Homo sapiens: one gene and its partner. The protein of the gene in region 2 purifies or fractionates together with the protein of the main gene of each other region. This does not show direct contact. Each region holds a gene or a part of one and is shown on either strand. Other genes may lie near its edges.

The links.
Region 1: the proteins of EPS15 (region 2) and AP2B1 purify together in Homo sapiens (affinity purification with mass spectrometry; 3 studies listed by BioGRID and IntAct, with this or other methods). This does not show direct contact.

What each region holds. Positions count from the first base shown.
Region 1 is NC_000017.11:35,603,779-35,608,774, reverse strand, and holds part of AP2B1 (AP-2 complex subunit beta), read right to left. Parts: intron 3,071-4,996; coding exon 2,935-3,070; intron 634-2,934; coding exon 388-633; intron 1-387. UniProt on the Homo sapiens protein: Component of the adaptor protein complex 2 (AP-2). Adaptor protein complexes function in protein transport via transport vesicles in different membrane traffic pathways.
Region 2 is NC_000001.11:51,508,592-51,513,587, forward strand, and holds part of EPS15 (epidermal growth factor receptor substrate 15), read right to left. Parts: intron 1-4,996. UniProt on the Homo sapiens protein: Involved in cell growth regulation. May be involved in the regulation of mitogenic signals and control of cell proliferation. Involved in the internalization of ligand-inducible receptors of the receptor tyrosine kinase (RTK) type, in particular EGFR.

The DNA of each region.
Region 1 (4,996 bases), on a different chromosome or scaffold from region 2:
ATAAAGATCATTTTCATTCAGTTTCTAGTCCCACACCACCAGAAAATACCACAAATATTGATCTGAAGAAAATAATCTTAAATATATATAAATTTACGGCCAAACCTCCTGAAGAAAATGATGAAAGTTTTCATCATGGGCAATATGGGCAAATATGAGCATAAGTACAATACAAAGATTTGCTTTAAGATCCCTGCATTTTAGTACTTGGTTCTCACCTCAAAAACACCTAGGATATGAAATATACAATCTGTGAGACACACAAAGTCATGTTTCCCATAGCTACCCCATAACCCAGTATTCCAAAGACAAGGTTCATATTAAACACGCTTTAACAAGGGACTCATTTTAAATACTGCTCTCTTTGTAAAAGCAGAAGCTTATTACCATTGGATTTGAATCTGCTATGAGATCCCGTAGAGAATCCAGAAATCCCTGATCTTCCACCATTTGGGCATTGATATCATGGAGTTTTGCCACGCAGACTGCTGCTGTTTTCCGAACATAGGGATCCTCATCCTTCAAGCACTTGCGGAGCGGCTCACAGAGATATTCTGTAATTTTGTCTACCCGGATGCACCCCATGGTTCTGACTGCCAAGGCTCGAATCAAAGGATTAGGATCTTCACAGTCCTGCAGAAAACAATCACCAACAACTGTAGGTATACATGGTGGCTAAAAGTAAACAGTCCAGTTTATGTAAGCTGCAAAAGAATTACCTCATTAATTTAAGCTTCCAGATACATTCTACATGAGCTCCAATCTTCCATGCTATTCCTTTCCTAAGTACAAATCTTAGCTGCCCTATTTAAGAGTTTAGGTGAAGAAGTCATTTAACTGTTTTAAATACAAAATGAGAAACAGCTCAGCAGGATTCACTCTAGTGCCAGGCAGAGGTTTAGGGAGTTCGTACCATCCCACAGCCATTAGGATCTACCCTAAAAACAGGAAAAGCTTTTGGGCTTGTATTCCGGCACAGGAAAAAAAAAAAAAAAAAAAAGAGGAGCTGTAAAGACCGTGCCCTACTCCACAGTGAGTTCCTAAACATCAAATAGAAAAGAGAGCTAGATTTCTGTGGCCTGCAGCCAAGAAAACAAAGGGGAGCACAGGAGCTGGTCTGGGCTTGAAATAAGTACCTGGAGTTAAGCAGCAGAGAAGGCCCTCTGAGCTCTTGGCTAACATACATTCTCTTTTACTAGCAAGTGCTTCCAAATATAGTAAATAGAATATGGAGAAAGAACACTCTTTTAAACTGCCTTACACTAAAAAAATGTCTTTAAGCCCATGTAAATCTATGCACAACTCTAACTTCCAAAAAATGTAAACTAAATTCTTCCCAATGATATATTCCCTCTATGAACCACCAGTCATGGAGAACAAACTGTTACGTTCTGACTCTATAATGTAGCTAAACACAGGAAAAGAACAAAAAGTTCATGAGAAAGAAGAAAGCATATTGCTTATTTTTCAAAACATTTTAAATAGAAGCTAATTTTAGAAATGCTGTCTGTTTTTTTTAAATGTACACTAAGTTCCAAACAGAGAAAAAACAACTATTAAAAAAATATTAGGCTGGACATGGTGGCTCACGCCTGTAATCCCAGCACTTTGAGAGGCCAAGGTGGGCGGATCACCTGAGGTCAGGAGTTCGAGACCAGCCTGGCCAATATGGTGAAACCCCATCTCTACTAAATATACAAAATTAGCCAGGTGTGGTGGTGCATGCCTGTAATCCCAGCTACTCGGGAGGATGAGGCAGGAGAATCACTTGAGCCCGGGAGGCGGAGGTTGTGGTGAGCTGAGATTGCGCCATTGCACTCCAGCCCGGGCAACAAGAGTGAAATTCTGTCACCAAAAAAAAAAAAAAATTAATGGGAATGATCCCATTATTATTTTCTTTAAATCTATGATAGGAAAGATTTGACTGGATATTCAATAATAAGAAAATATTTTGTCCATTTTTAAAGACATGATGATATTGTGGTTATGTTTAAATAAAAGATCTTATCTTGACAAATATAAAGACAAAACTATTTAATATATGATGTTCAGGATTTCTTTAAAATTATCCAGCAGGAGAGGGGGTTGGAGGTCAGAAAATATGTATGAGGATTACAAACAAGAGTGGTTATGTGTCGGTAACTGTTAAAACTGCAAGACGGATATTTAGGAATTTATTATACTAGTCCTTTTTCTTGAATATGTTTAAAATTTTCCATTAAAAAAAATTAATCACGCCGGGAGTGGTGGCTTGTGTCCGTAACCCCAGCACTTTGTGAGGCTGAGGTGGGTGGATCACTTGAAGTTAGGAGCACGAGATCAGCCTGACCAACATGGTGAAACCCTGTCTCTACTAAAAATACAAAAATAAGCTGGGCATGGTGACGGTCACCTGTAATCCCAGCTACTTGGGAGACTGAGGCAGGAGAATCACTTGAACCTGGGAGGCAGAGGTTGCAGTGAGCCAAGATCGTGCCACTGCACTCCAGCCTCGGTGACAGAGTGAGACTCTGTATCAAAAAAAAAAAAAAATTAATCAAATGATGTAAGACGTATTAAATGAAATGAAAGTAGAAACTCCGGCAGTCTCCACTACTGCTGACTCATAAGTATAATTTCTACAAAGATAAAATAGGTAAAGCCCCCAATTACTGATAGTACAATGATATGCCCACCTTTGTCAGCCTCAGAAGGTAAAACAGTGGGGTTTCACCAGGTTTTCTTCTACCCATCTGGCAAGGATGCACCAAGCCCCACTAACAGAAAGCTCAGCACATGGTTTGAATTTCCCTGGATGACACACACTGGTATACAGAATGCTTAAAACATGAACATTCCTAGTCATTGCCAACACTTCCCTACACTCCTTCCTTGTGAACAGAGGTTACTTATTTGCAATTCAAACTCTGTTATTGAGGCCTTGGGAAAAGTTACCTTCACAAAGCTGTTTACAGCCATGATGGCCATGTCTGGCTGACTCTTGGCGTAGTTCATCAAGTAGAGATACACAAGCTTCTTTAGTTCCAGATTGTCAGTCTGCATACAGTTCACTACGTCTGGAAAGAGAGAACTGAGAAGAGAGGGTAAAAGAGAAAAGGAAAGTAAGCAGGTGTTGGTGCCAAGCTGTTGGACAGAACATGAATAGCCTTAACTAACAGTGATTTGATGCAAGAACAAATGTCCCCACAGTGGTAACTGTCACAGAAATGAATTACTAAAGAAACTGGCTGGGCACGGTGGCTCACGCCTATAATCCCAGCACTCTGGGAGGCCAAGGCAGGCGGATCACCTGAGGTCGGGAGTTTGAGACTAGCCTGACCAACATGGAGAAACCCCGTCTCTACTAAAAATACAAAAAATTAGCCAGGCATGGTGGTGCATGTCTGTAATCCCAGCTACTCAGGAGGCTGAGACAGGAGAATCGTTTGAACCTGGGAGGCAGAGTTTGCGGTGAGCTGAGATCACACCATTGCACTCCAGCCTGGGCAACAAGAGCGAGACTCCTGTGTCTAAAAAAAAAAGGAAAAAAAAAAAGAAAAGAAAAGAGAAAAGAAAAGAAAAGAAACTGTAGGCCAGACATGGTGGCTCAGGTATGCAATCTCAGAACTTTGGGAGGCTGGGGTGTAAGGATTCACTTGAGACCAGGTGTTCAAGGCCAGCCTGGACAACATGGCGAGATCCTCTCTACAAAAATTTGTTTTAAAAAGCTAGGTGTGGTGGTGCACACCTGTAGTCTTAGCTACTCAGAAGGCTGAAGCAGGAGGTCGAGACTGCAGTGAGCCATGATCACGTCACTGCACTCTAGCCTGGATGACAGAGTGAGACCTTGTCCCCATCCAAAAAAAACAAGAAAAAAATTGTAGTGCTGTTCTCAACAAGGTCTCTATAGTTTTAGAAAAAGCTTTTTATTATGAAAAAATGTTAATCCTAGTGCTGGGATTACATGCATAAGCCACTGTGCCCAGCTTCATCTATAATATTTTAATGTGTATCTTAAGAATCCTTTTTTTTCTTTTTGAGACAGAGTCTCACTCTGTCGCCCAGGCTGGAGTTCAGTGGCACCATCTTTGCTTCCTGCAACCACTGCCTCCCCAGTTCAAGCAATTCTAATGTGTCAGCCTCCTAAGTAGCTGAGATTACAGGCGTGCGCCACCACTCCCGGCTAATTTTTATATTTTTAGTAGAGATGGGGTTTCACCATGTTAGCCAGGCTAGTCCCGAACTCCTGACCTCAGGTGATCCACCTGCCTTGGCCTCCCAAAGTTCTGGGATTACAGATGTGAGCCACCACGCACAGGCAAGTGTCTTTTTTTTTTTCCACTACCTTTATCACATTCAAAAAAACACACAAAAACAAAAACAAAAAAGCCAGGCCCAGTGGCTCACGTCTGTAATCCAAGCACTTTGCGAGGCCATGGTGGGAGGACTGCTTGAGCCTAGGAGTGTGAGACCAGCCTGGGCAACATAGTGAGACCTCGTCTCTATAAATAATTTTAAAAATTAGCCAGGCATGGTGGTGTGCGCCTGTGGTCCCAGCTACTCAGGAAGCTGAGGTGGGAGGATCACTTGAGCCTGGGATGCGGAGGCTGCAGTGAGCCACGAACATGCCACTGCACACCAGCCTGAGGAACAGAGAGAGACCCCATCTCAAAAATAAAAATAAAAAATAACAATAATTATTTTAAAATATTTATTTTATGTACAAAAAGCTAACATGGTTTCTCTCATTGGGTGGGTGCCTTAGATAATCCATTCGTGGAAGATCACTTAGTCCAACTTAATGAAATCTATATCCTTCACGTATGATGGAAACACTGGTGGCATGTAACGAGGCTCAATTTCCAGATCAGACTGTGCCCAGTTTCAGCAGACACAATAGCAAGAACCCTGGCTGACTTTTCGCGGGTGGCTCCAGTAGAGCTGCTGGTGAATCATCTTGCTTTCAGGAGTGCGACAGGGCAAAAGGAACAATAATTCTTCATATCCATCTACTACA
Region 2 (4,996 bases):
TCCAGTGTTCTTCCCACTACGTAAAACTTCTCTCAGTGTCCCTGGGATGAGAATCTTGACACTCTGTTAAAATATATATATAAAATATTTTACCTACTGTTTTGGAGTAGATCACAGATCTTTTGAAGTCTATCCTTGAGTCCCCTTCCTATGCTCTATGGTCAAAGTTAAAAATTCTTCCTTTATTACAAAAAAAAGATAAAACAAGGAATCTCATAAGAAAATTGATGTTATATCCCACAATATGAACTCTATGCACCAAAATACAATTTAACTTGAATCAAATGTTCCTATAGATTTATGTTATCCTTTCAAGTACAGTTTAAATATCCTCTACAGTAACAACCCTGGATCCTATAAAACCATTAAATAATTAAAAACTATATTACCACCAAAAGTTTCATCATAATCACAGTATTCTCTCATGGCACCCCCTTGCCTTACTTCTATCATCCTTTATCACAGTACTTGTCACACAAGAAAGTCAGTGTTTATCTCCCTAAAAAACCAAAAGCTACTTCAGAGCAAATGTCATGGTCTTATTCTGTATGTCCAAGGCTTACTAGAGTAGTGACACACAGGAGGCATCTAGTAAATGTTTTCTGAAACAGAGGATCAACCATCAATACTGGAAGCACCTTTAATGCATATAATTTCATATTTTTTATATATGCATAATGCTATATCTATGTTGTACCTACAGAACAAAAGATGGAATGAAGTTATCAATAATCCTTAGTATAAATGATCCATCAAAATTCTAATTAAGTGCAACATTTCATAAAAATTAATGGCTCATATAACTAAAATCTATCAATTTACCTAAGACATTCTAACTTCAGAGCCCAAGATCTCTCTCATTATTTTATGCTAGTTCTCAAAAATGTTCATCTGAGGATCAGAAATCATTACAGCTAATGGTTCCAGGTTTTAGTCAATAAAAGTCTATTTTATAGGGAGTCTCTGATACATTTTATCTTTAGCAATACAATACTGTAGAAACTCCAAGTCCAAATAACCATGTCTGAGAGAATATTAGCTTAAAAGTAAATATTGGTATGATGTACACTAACCTAGACAAGCTTAGATTTTCATGAGCAATAAATCTGGAGGTTGCAAAATGAAAAACTACCTTCTACTATGTCTACAAAAACTTTCCACTATAACTTCGTGCAACAATCACTTTCTAGAGATGTGGTGTATGCAATGATAAGTTGATTTTCACATAGGAAGATGTAGTAGCCTACAACATATGTTCAGCTATAACCAAGGAATGGTACCACAATAAGCTCTGTCAGAGCCATTTTGCCCTTAAAAATGCAGACTCATTCAATCAATATCCGAGTTGCTTAGACTACTGGGTTACAATTCTGGCTCTACCACTTAGCAGCAGTTTGACCTTGAACAAATTACTTCACCTCTGTGTCCCAGTTTTTTATTTTGTTTTGTTTTTGTAAAACAGGGATATAAGGATTACCAAGTTGTAAAGAATACTGAAAGGTTCATCAGGTTGTAAAGATTATTGAAAATAGCACATGACACGTAAGTGTGCTCAGTAAGTATTATTGTTATTATCCCACTATTGACCTCCTCCCCAATACACACAAACACACGCACACACACACCACTGGATAATTTCTTTTACATAACAATAGAGGAATGTAAGATCACATGAATGTTCATTCTTATCCCAAAATTTGACTGAAATATCATCAATGACTATAGGAAGCAGCATAGCAAATGTACTTGGAGAACAGATGTGCCTGGGTTCAAGTCTCAACTCTCCCACTTAAAATACAACCGTGAGCAAGTAATACAGAAGATTAATGCCTACTTGTAGAAAGGCTATGAAGATTAAGTGAAATAATGTATGTAGATCATCTAAAAGTATTTAGTATTTATTAGGTGTTCTAGAAGCATCAGTCCTCTTCCTTCTCAACAGTGGCATAAGAATGTTTTCCTTCCAGGATCTCTGTATTGATACTTAGCCCACTAGATAGAACTGTTCCACAACTAAAAGAAGACCACACTAAGTTTCCAAACTACAGTGGAGCCGGAAGAGGGAGGAGATCACACTAAAAAAGGCACAGAAATCACACATAAAATTAAGTTCACAATTTCAGGTTGCCTTCTCATTTAAGTTTTTTAAGCTCAATATTTATGCACAAGGAGTCAATCATGGCTCATGGCAGGCTTAAGAATAAAAATATGAAGATAAACTCTTTCCCCTGTCCTCACCCCTAGAAAGTATATCTTGTATGTCCTAATGGACCACAGAAAGTATGTATCTAGGCCGGGCACGATGGCTCACGCCTGTAATCCCAAGCAATTTGGGAGGCTGAGGAGGGAGGATCACCTGAGGTCAGGAGTTCGAGACCAGCCTGGCCAACATGGTGAAACCCCGTCTCTACTAAAAACACAAAAATTAGCCAGGTGTGGCGGTGGGCGCCTATAATCCCAGCTACTTGGGAGGCTGAGGCAGGAGAATCATTTGAACTCGGGAGGCAGAGGTTACAGTGAGCCGAGATCACACCACTGCACTCCAGCCTGAGCGACAGAGCCAGACCTCCGCCTCAAAAAATAATAATAAATAAATAAGTATATATCTAAACCAGTGATTTGGCCGGGCGCAGTGGCTCACACTATAATCTCAATACTTTGGGAGGCCAAGGCAGGAGGATCACTTGAGGTCGGGAGATAGAGACCAGCCTGGAAAACATGGTGAAATCCATCTGTACTAAAAATACAAAAAAAATTAGCCAGGCGTGGTGATGCACGCCTGTAATCCCAGCTACTCGGGAGGCTGAGGCACGAGAATTGCTTGAACCCAGGGGTGGAGGTTGCAGTGAGCCAAGATCACACCACTGCACTCCAGCCTGGACGACAGAGCGAGACTCTCTCTCAAAAGTACTAAAACTTTAAAATAAAAATAAATAAATAAACCAGTGATTCTAAACCAGAGGCAATTTAATCCTCTAGGAAATATTTGTCAGTGTCTGGAGATATTTCTGATTGCTGCAACTGGTGAAGGTGTTACGTCTAATGGATAAGGATGCTGCAAAACACCCTACAATGCACAGAACAGCCTCCCACAACAAGAAATTCTCCAGCCCAAAATCTCAAAGTGCCAAGGCTGAGAAACCATGATCTAAAAAACTATAAAGTACTGTAATATAAACGTCTTCCTCCAAAAAATATGTTCTTATCCTAGCATTCTTGGTCAAATTTGTATTCTTATTGCAGATTTAGTAAGGAATAAGCAGTTTGATTATTTCAGATGAAAAACTCCTGGTACTGTTATATTCCCATTGTAATAATCCCCAGTTTAAAGGAGGGAGGAAGTGAGGCTTACTTTTCTTTGTATATTTTTACCACATAAAAACAAGTTTTAAAAAGAGCCCAACTTTTATTTTTTAATTGCACCTCTGATTCATTTGAAAGCCTTATTTATATCACAAAAATGAGTTTCTTCTACCTCATTTCTATCCTACTTTTGCACAAAATATTCAGAAGTTCACATTTATGTGATAGGAAAGCAGAGTATATGAGGCAGGGTACAAGGCCAGCTTTTAACAAATTGGGAAACTACAGGAGTAGCTAAAGAAAATAAGTCACCAGTTCATTTTGTAATCACAACATGCTTAAGAGGTCTCAATAATACCCAAGAAGTCTCAGTAGTTTATTTCTAATATGCAAATGAGTGCACTTAAGAGGTTAAGTAATTTGCCCAAGATCACAGAACTACTCAGGGGCAGAACAGGTGTGCTCTTGCAGTTATATTAGTCTGCCTCTGCTCCTGAAGTTTAAAAATCTAGATTTTGCAGAAGCTCTAAGAGAAAAGACTGACAAATTAAACATATAAAACAAATATTTCTACATAATCAAAAAATGCCAAAAACAAAAAAAAATTCAGAGAAAAAAATTTTGCAAAGGATTTTGCAAAGAAGGGCAAATTTCCTAAATATAAGAAGAGTTCTTACAAATCAGTGAGAAAGAAGACAAACAGCCCATCAAGAGAACAGGTAAAAGACTAAAGCAGTTTATAAAAAAAGAAATACAAATGGTTTCAAAGGAAAAAAAAATAAGTTCAGCCTTACCCATAAAGAAATAACAAACTAAAACAATGAAATTGTTTGAAATCTTTCTGATTACTGGACTGACAATAATATACATGTTGATCAAGCTGTGGAGGAAATGACACTCTCAAACATGTGTGCTGCTACAGTGTTTCTGAATGTAAATGAGCAATATCTTTTTTTTTTTTTTTTTTTTTTGGAGACAGGGTCTTAGCTCTGTCACCTAGGCTGGAGTGCAGTGGTGCAATTATAGCTCACTGTAACCTGCTAATCATAGCTCACCTGTAGCCTGCTAGGACTACGGGCACACACCACCATGCCCAGCTAATTAAAAAAAATTTTTTTTTTGTCCCAGATGGATTTCACTATGTTACCCAGGCCTTGAACTCTTGGCTTCAATCAATCCTTCCGCCTCAGCCTCCCAAAGCACTGGAATTATAGGCCTGAGCCACTATGCCTACCCCAAATTAGCAGTATCTATGCAGATTAAAAGTATCCTCTGGCCCAAAAATTACACCTACTAGAAATTAATCCATATGCTCACACATGTGCACAAAAACATGTAAAAGAGTATCCACTGCAGCATAGTTGTAACAAAAGATTGAAAACAAAATAAATGTCCAGCATTAGGTGGCCAGTAAAATAAATAACAGTAAGTTCACATATAGAAATACCCTGAGGTTTTGAAAACAATAAGGGAGATCTATATGTGATGTTATAGAGCAATCTCCTAAATCAGTTAAGCTAAAAATAATATAACAACAAACTGTGAAACAATAAACAGCTTACACAAAAGAATATACATATACAGTATACATATATATTTATTCGCATATACACAGACTATTACTGGAAATTCACACAAGAAACTGGCAAGAATGGCTGCCTCTGGGAAAGCAAATGAGGGCCTAAAGCAGAAA